Homo sapiens: one gene and its partner. The protein of the gene in region 1 interacts with the protein of each later gene in a biochemical or structural test. Each region holds a gene or a part of one and is shown on either strand. Other genes may lie near its edges.

What was found.
Region 2: of the proteins of FBLN1 (region 1) and FAM20C, one has a biochemical effect on the other in vitro, tested with the Homo sapiens proteins (one large-scale study listed by IntAct).

The regions. Positions count from the first base shown.
Region 1 is NC_000022.11:45,509,231-45,513,038, forward strand, and holds part of FBLN1 (fibulin-1 isoform D precursor), read left to right. Parts: intron 1-3,808. UniProt on the Homo sapiens protein: Incorporated into fibronectin-containing matrix fibers. May play a role in cell adhesion and migration along protein fibers within the extracellular matrix (ECM).
Region 2 is NC_000007.14:254,764-258,571, reverse strand, and holds part of FAM20C (extracellular serine/threonine protein kinase FAM20C precursor), read right to left. Parts: intron 2,724-3,808; coding exon 2,543-2,723; intron 1,919-2,542; coding exon 1,809-1,918; intron 1,568-1,808; coding exon 1,486-1,567; intron 1-1,485. UniProt on the Homo sapiens protein: Golgi serine/threonine protein kinase that phosphorylates secretory pathway proteins within Ser-x-Glu/pSer motifs and plays a key role in biomineralization of bones and teeth.

The DNA of each region.
Region 1 (3,808 bases):
GATGAGGATGCCCCTCTGTGCACTGGGCTGATGTAGGAAGTTGCTGCCGGGGCCAGAGCTGCCTGGAGGGAACTGTGGGGAGAATGCTTCTCGCCTTCCCAGAGAGGTACCTTCTGCTCCTTCTCTCTTGCTGCCTCCTCCCGGCTGGTTCACCATCCAAGACCCCTGTCATCTCCATGACAGATGCTGGGAACAGGCTCAGCAGTGGACACAGTCAGGTCTTGTGTTGGGGATGGGGCCAGGAGCCCTAAGAGCAGGCTCCAGTTCGCCCTGCTTCCTCCTGCAGAGGCCAGGTGGTCTTGAAGAGGGGACACGAGTCTGTCCTCATCCTGGAACTGTAAGGGATGCAGGGACATAGGCCAATCTGGCTGGACCCCTGGTGGCTTCCCAGACAACATAGTAAAACTCCGTCTCTACTAAAAATACAAAAAATTAGCCAGGCGTGGTGGTAGGCGCCTGTAATCCCAGCTACTCAGGAGGGGCAGGGTGCAGGTGGGGGTTGGGTGGAGTCGCCCAGTCCTGTTTGGTTGGAACTTTCCATCAGGGTCTCTGTGGTTGACATCTTGTTGCATTTCAGGCTTTTCGGTTCCTTGGTTCTGGACACCACGGAGGCCACTCCAACTCTTTGCTGTAGCTTTAGACAATGCTGTGGGGCAGGTGGGGTGGGGGCATGATCCTTTTGTGTGGTGAGTCCGGGAGGCACACAGGATGAAGCCTCAAGCTCCCATTCACTTTTAAAAACTCCTGACGCCCTCAGCTGCCTCTGAGTTTTTGAGCTTGAGCAGAGGAAATCAAGGAAATTGAGGCTGGCTTCTGATCACATGCCTTTACTTCATCCCCAGCTATTCACGGAGCTTTGCCAACTTAAAATATCCTCATTTGCCCGATGAGGATATTAAAATAAAAAACAGACACCCATTCAACCACCATCTCATATCGTCACCACTTCACAGAGGTAGGGGACATTTTAATGCCCCGGATTTTGGAAGGACGCGGTCTCACAATAAAAGACAGTATTGTAGATGGAATCGGGCCGGCTTTGTAGAGGTCCCTGGATCCTGCTTTGCTTTCACCCTATTTTGTTGCAACCCAGTGGAAATTTTGCCAGAGCAATGCCCTTACACAGGGTGGGATTGGGGAAGCCTGCTCTTAACTGCAGGCCAAATCCTCCATTCAGTTTATAAATGAAAAAACTGAGGCCCGGACTTGCTCCGGGTGGGAAAACTCTCAACCATGAGATCAGAAGCAGACTCCAGGCCTCCCGGTTCCCAGCCCCCAGTCTCCCCTCTGTGACAGTCTGCTTGCTCAGCAACCTGGGAATTAAGATCCTCGTGGCTCACAGGCTGCTGGGGATGGGATCAGGCATTGCCCAAAGCTTCTGCGATGTTTACAGCTAGCAGGCTGACATTCTGGAAGCTTCCACCCAAGGAGTGGTACAGAATCTCTCTGAGCATCTGTAGTCTTAGAAAGAGCACGTGGCCATATCCTTCCTGGGTGTCCAGGGCATGGTCCCCGCAGGCCATGTGACCTGTGTTTCTCTGCATGCCTTGGAACATGGGGCATGCCGCTGATCTACACCATAATCTTTATGGAGGTTTAACTCACCTGGAAAAAATTTAGTTTTAGCAGCTGTCCCAGGCAACAAACGGTATCTGAGGCCTGTGAACTGAGCCAGCTCCATCCATCTGCACCAGTTACTCCGGCAGGCATGTGTCTCTCCTGAAGAGAGGTGGTGGATGTGGTGGCGTGTTGGCCATCGGGCACCGTGTCAGCCTGGAGGAGTGTGTGGTTCCTTTGAAAAAGAATGTTCTCCCAATCCTGGTGTGATAACTTTTCCTTTTGTTTAATTTTGAAGCTTCTGTTTTTTCCTGTGGTCAGTGTGCTAATGTAAGCACTTTTCCTGGATTATCTCATCAATCTTCCCCCATTTTTTTTTTTTTTGAGACAGAGTTTCGCTCTTGTTGCCCAGGCTAGAGTGCAATGGCATGATCTCAGCTCACTGCAACCTCTGCCTCCTGGGTTCAAGTGATTCTCCTGCCTCAGCCTCCCGAGTAGCTGGGATTACAGGCATACGTCACCATGCCTGGTTAATTTTGTATTTTTAGTAGAGACGGGCTTTCTCCATGTTGGTCAGGCTGGTCTCAAACTCCCAACCTCAGGTGATCCACCTGCCTCGGCCTCTCAAAGTGCTGGGATTACAGGCATGAGCCACCATGCCTGGCTTTTTTTTTTTTTTTAGACAGTCTCACTCTGTCACCCAGGATGGAGTACAGTGGCACGATCTTGGCTCACTGCAACCTCTGCCTCCCGGGTTCAAGTGATTCTCTCACCTCAGCCTCCTGAGTAGCTGGGATTTCAGGTGCCCGCCACCATGCCCAGCTAATTTTTGTATTTTTAGTGGAGACTGGGTTTTACCATGTTGGCCAGGCTGGTCTCGAACTCCTGGACTGAAGTGATGTCTGCCCACTTCAGCCTCCCAAAGTGCTGAGATTACACCCATGAGCCACTGCTCCCGGCCTCTTCCCCCATTTTTACAGATGAAGGAAGTGAGCCTCCTTGAGTCTTAGTAAGGGAGGGAGCTGGATTCAAGGCTGAGCAGTTTTAACCCGCAGCGTTGCCTTCCCTGGGAACATTCGAGTTGAAGGTTAACGAGATTTTGCAAGAGTTTGCTCTTGGTTTATATCTAATATTATGCTTTGGATCTAACTCACATGGTCAGATGCAGGGGTCAGATTGAGACTGGTTGATTGAAACTCCTCCGAAACAACAGGAAATGATCTGGGAGAGAAGATTCCAGGTCCCCTGAGGCCCTGCTTCTCTCTTGATCCCCCACAGCCCAGTGTCGAGTTACCAGCGAGTGCCTGTTCTGCTTGGGTGGGTGTCCAGTGTGGTACTGGTCAGAGGTAATTTTTGGATCTCAGAGCTGCTCACAGCTGTTGGCGGTCTGGGATGGAAGAAGCAGGCGTGGCTTCGGTTGGCCCACATTATCCTCCTGACTCACAGTGTTCCAGGGCTGCTCAGCTGCCCTAGGGTTTGTGTACAAATGGCCTTGATTTGACACCCTTCTGAAGGTGGGGGGCCTGACTGATCAGGCAGTTGGTTGGATGCTGTTGACCCCCGCAGAACTCTTGGTACCTATGAGGCGTGGAGTTGGCGTGGGGGATCTGTTAGCCCCAGTCCCCTTTTTGCCCCCACCCCAGCCTGGCCGAGAGTCCTGGGCAGGCACTGAGAAGGCAACACATGGGGTAGGACTTGATGAGCAGGTGGATAGGACAGTGAGGTGGGAGGTGCCTCTGTGGGCCTCAGATGGTCCCCAGCCTGTGTGATGGGGCAGCGAAGCTCAGGACACCTGGTGTTTGGATATCCACAGGTGACCGGATCCCCAGGCAAATGAGCAGCTGGAAGTCCCTGCAGGGATGCGGGAGGCACAGCCAGGGTGGGGCTGGACCCCAGGCCCTTCCCCACTCCCATCGCCCCACCCTCACAGGACACACGGGGGAGCTGTGATCCTCAGGGTGTTCTTTTGTTTTTAGTTTTTTTGTTTTGAGACAGGGTCTCCCCCTGTCCCCCAGGCTGGAGTGTAGTGGTGCAGTCGTGGCCCACTGCAAGCTTGAACTCCTGGGCTCAAGCGATCCTCCCACCTCTGCCTTCCAAAGTGCTAGGATCATAGGCTTGAGCCACCATGCCTGGCCTTTTTGTTGTTGTTGTTCTTTTGTTGTTGTTAAGTCATCTTTATTTTGGTTGCAAAGTTGCAATCTATTTTTTACTGAACATTTTAAGTCTCATTTGAAGTTTCATAGCTTGCCGT
Region 2 (3,808 bases), on another chromosome or scaffold:
CCATGGGTCCACCTGCCTGTACCCGACACCCCAGGCAGTGGGTCCACCCAGCCCATCTCCAGCACCCCGGGCAGTGGGTCCATCCCACCCATCTCCAGCACCCCAGGCAGTGGGTCCATCCCACCCATCTCCAGCACCCCAGGCAGTGGGTCCACCCCACCCATCTCCAGCATCCCGGGCAGTGGGTCCACCCTGCCCATCTCCAGCACCTCAGGCAGTGGGTCCACCCTGCCCATCTCCAGCACCCCGGGCAGTGGGTCCATCCCACCCATCTCCAGCACCCCAGGCAGTGGGTCCACCCTGCCTATCTCCAGCACCTCAGGCAGTGGGTCCACCCCACCCATCTCCAGCACCCCAGTCAGTGGGTCCACCCTGCCTATCTCCAGCACCTCAGGCAGTGGGTCCACCCTGCCTATCTCCAGCACCCCAGTCAGTGGGTCCACCCCGCCTATCTCCAACACCCCGGGCAGTGGGTCCACCCAGCCCCATCTCCAGCACCCCAGGCAGTGGGTCCACACTGCCTATCTCCAGCACCCGGGCAGTGGGTCCACCCAGCCCCATCTCCAGCACCCCAGGCAGTGGGTCCACACTGCCTATCTCCAGCACCTCAGGCAGTGGGTCCACCCCGGGCATCTCCAGCACCCCAGGCAGTGTGTCCACCCAGCCCATCTCCAGCATCCTGGGCAGTGGGTCCACCCAGCCCCATCTCCAGCACCCCAGGCAGTGGGTCCACCCTGCCCATCTCCAGCACCCCGGGCAGTGGGTCCACCCAGCCCATCTCCAGCACCCCGGGCAGTGGGTCCACCCTGCCCATCTCCAGCACCCCAGGCAGTGGGTCCACCCCGCCTGTCCCCAGCCCTGTATGTGGGGTCCTGGCCTCTGGCCTGGGGAAGGGTCCTGGGCAGCCGAGTTGAGATGGCTCCAGGGAGCGTCAGCCCACAGTTTAGCTATTGAAGTGCCCAAAGTCCATCTCTCTGAGGCCTCCGAGCCTGGGAATGGACGTCCTCCTGCCCGAGTTACTCGCCTCCATGCTTTGCTTATTAGGGGTCACCCTCCCTGGTAACCAGGGTCTCACAGCGCCGCCCAAGACCCCCCGTGGCAGGCCAGCAGCGGCCGCAGAGGCCGCCTATCCCCCGCTGGCTGGCTCCAGGTACCGCGTGCAGGCAGAGGCCCATCTATTCTGCACGGTCCTGCTCTTCCTACCAGCAGCCTCTCCTGGCCTCCGTTTCCCAGGTAACACCAGCTCTGCCGGGACTTGGTCTGCAGCATTCCTGTGCCTCGGAGGTCCCACTCCCGGGGCGGCCCTCCCTCCTGGTTGGGGCCTGGGGCCGCCCTCTGCATCTGGCTCTGAGATGGGCCTTTGCGACATTCCCATCCCTCCACTGGAGGGTCTGCTCCCCCCGTCCCCAGGGTCTCAGGTGGGCTGCAGGTAGCTGGGAGGTGGCCGGCCCTTCCCTGGGTGTGCAGGGGCGAGGACAGGCTCACCCTCTTCCATTGTCTAAGTGGATGATGAACGTTTCATTCCCAAACTTCTCAAAAGTCTCGTAGTGGTGACGGTCCATGTTTCCTGCGGAGAGAGGCAGAAAGTGTCACAGCTCGTGGGGAGCCGGGCCACGTAGCTCAGAGGCCTCTGTGCTCTGCAGAGCGGCGTCTCCTCCTGCCAGCGTGACCTCTAAGCAATCTGGCCCCTTCACAGGCCACAGGACCGCAGCCGGGCCGTGCCACGGAGTGTGCCCTGCAGAGCCCTGCGTGCATCCGCTCCACGCAAGGCGAGTGACACGGGGACCCCGTGCCCCTGCGGGACGTACCCATGAGGAAGTCGAAGATCGTCATGTCCATGACGTCCAGGATGCGGTGGCTGCTGTCGTAGGGCGGTGTCTGCTTCACCTCCTCGCAGTAGTCAGGGTCCACCTCCCACCTGCGGGGAGCCAGCGTGAGACGGGGGGCCCAGGCCAGATTCTGGGGAGCCCGGCGCGTGCCATGAGGAGCAGAAGAGAAACACTGCGGCAGGGACCTTGGCGTCTGCAGATGGACCCGCCCGGGCTGCGGCGCTGAGGCTGCATTAGCGGGAGCACGGGTGTGGGAGGGGACGGAGCCGCTCTGCCCTGCCTCGGGGTGACCCCACCTGGAGCTGCCTTCACCTCTGGGCCCCGTGTTTTTTGCAGAGTCTCTGTGGGGAAACAGGACCTGGACTACACACTCACGAGGACAACGTGGGGCGGAAAGAACAGGGGCCGTTTCTCCCGCAGGAGTGAGGAGAGGGACGGGGCGAGAGCAGAGCTCAAACGCTGAGAGGCCCCGATTCGAGGGACCTGGTGGGCAGGCCGGCCCGGGTCAGGGAAGCACATGGAAATACTGGAGTAAGGACGCCCTCTGCCACCGTCTCATCAGGAAGCGGTCATCTCACACAGGCCAGCATCGCACAGCAGGCTCTGCACCCATCTCTGCCACCCCCGTGGGCGCCGACCCTCCCATGCCCGCCCAGGCCCAGCTCCCTCTGCCGTAGGGTGGCCGGACGCCAGCCCCCCGGCCCCGCACTCACTCGGCCTTCTTGCGCTTGTGGTAGGAACGCCGCCAAGGGTTCCGCCAGGTCTTCCTCTTGGCCAGGGACAGGTCGGGCAGGAAGGCCGCCAGCGAGCCCTCGATCTGGTCTGGCTTCCCGCACAGGGCGTGCTCCGTGGAGCAGTAGTAGGAACACTCGCCGTAGAAGCAGATGTTGTTGGCTGGGGAGGGACAGGCTGCGGGTTACCAGGGCCGCACAGGGCTGCGTCCTCACCTGTGGTCTCACGGCCCCCAAGGCCGGGCCGGGCTCTGCCTGGTGCTTCTCATGGGCAGGACTCACCCACAGTTCCCCATCAATCCCAGCAAACACCTCCACCCCACGGTACAGAAAAATGAACCCACAGAGCTGACGTCCCGAGGCCACACAGCTCCCCAGAGGCAGAGCCCGGCCTGAACCCTCGAAAATCAGGGGCTGGTCTATGGAAACCCTAGGGCCAACATTTAGTCTTTTAAAAAATGCATTCATATTGTCAAGAAAGTGAAGATACAATCCACAGAATGGTAGAAAACGTTTGCAAACCGCACATCTGAGGATCTAGCATTTAGAGTGTATGAAGAACTCTCATCACTCAATCACAAAAAGACAAAAAAAACTAATAAATGGGCAGAGGGCTTGAACAGCTGATTCTCCAAAGACGACCCTGATGGCCGACAAGCATGAGAAGAGACGGGCGCCATCGTGAGTCACCGGGGAGATGCAAATCAAAGCCACGGTGAGGCACCATCTCCTGTCTGCTGGGATGGCTTCCATCAAAAGAGCAGCTGCCGGCTGGGACGGGGGAACCGCCACCTCTGTGCGCTGCTGGCGGGGGGTGCACACGGCACAGCCACGGCGGAAACGGTCTGCAGCCCCCAACTGATTAAACACAGTGTTTCCACGTGACCCAGGAACTCCCCTCCCATGTAAACCCCTAAGAGAAGAGAAAACATTTCTATACAAAAACTCAGACACGAATGCTCACAGCAGCACCGCTCACCACAGCCGAAAAAGAGAGAATCCACCCAAATGTCCATCAAGAGAGGAGTGGACACGCCAGGTGAACATGGTCCATCCGTGCGATGACACGAAACGAAATGAAACAAGAAGAGGAATGAAGCCCTCACTGAACCCGAGAACCCTGTGCTCCGCGAAGGAGGCCAGACAGAGGAGGCCACACGTCGTATGACCCTCTTAATATGAAACGCCCAGAACAGGCAAATCCAGATAGACTGGGGGTGGGACGCTGCTCGTCGAGGGCTGCGGGGT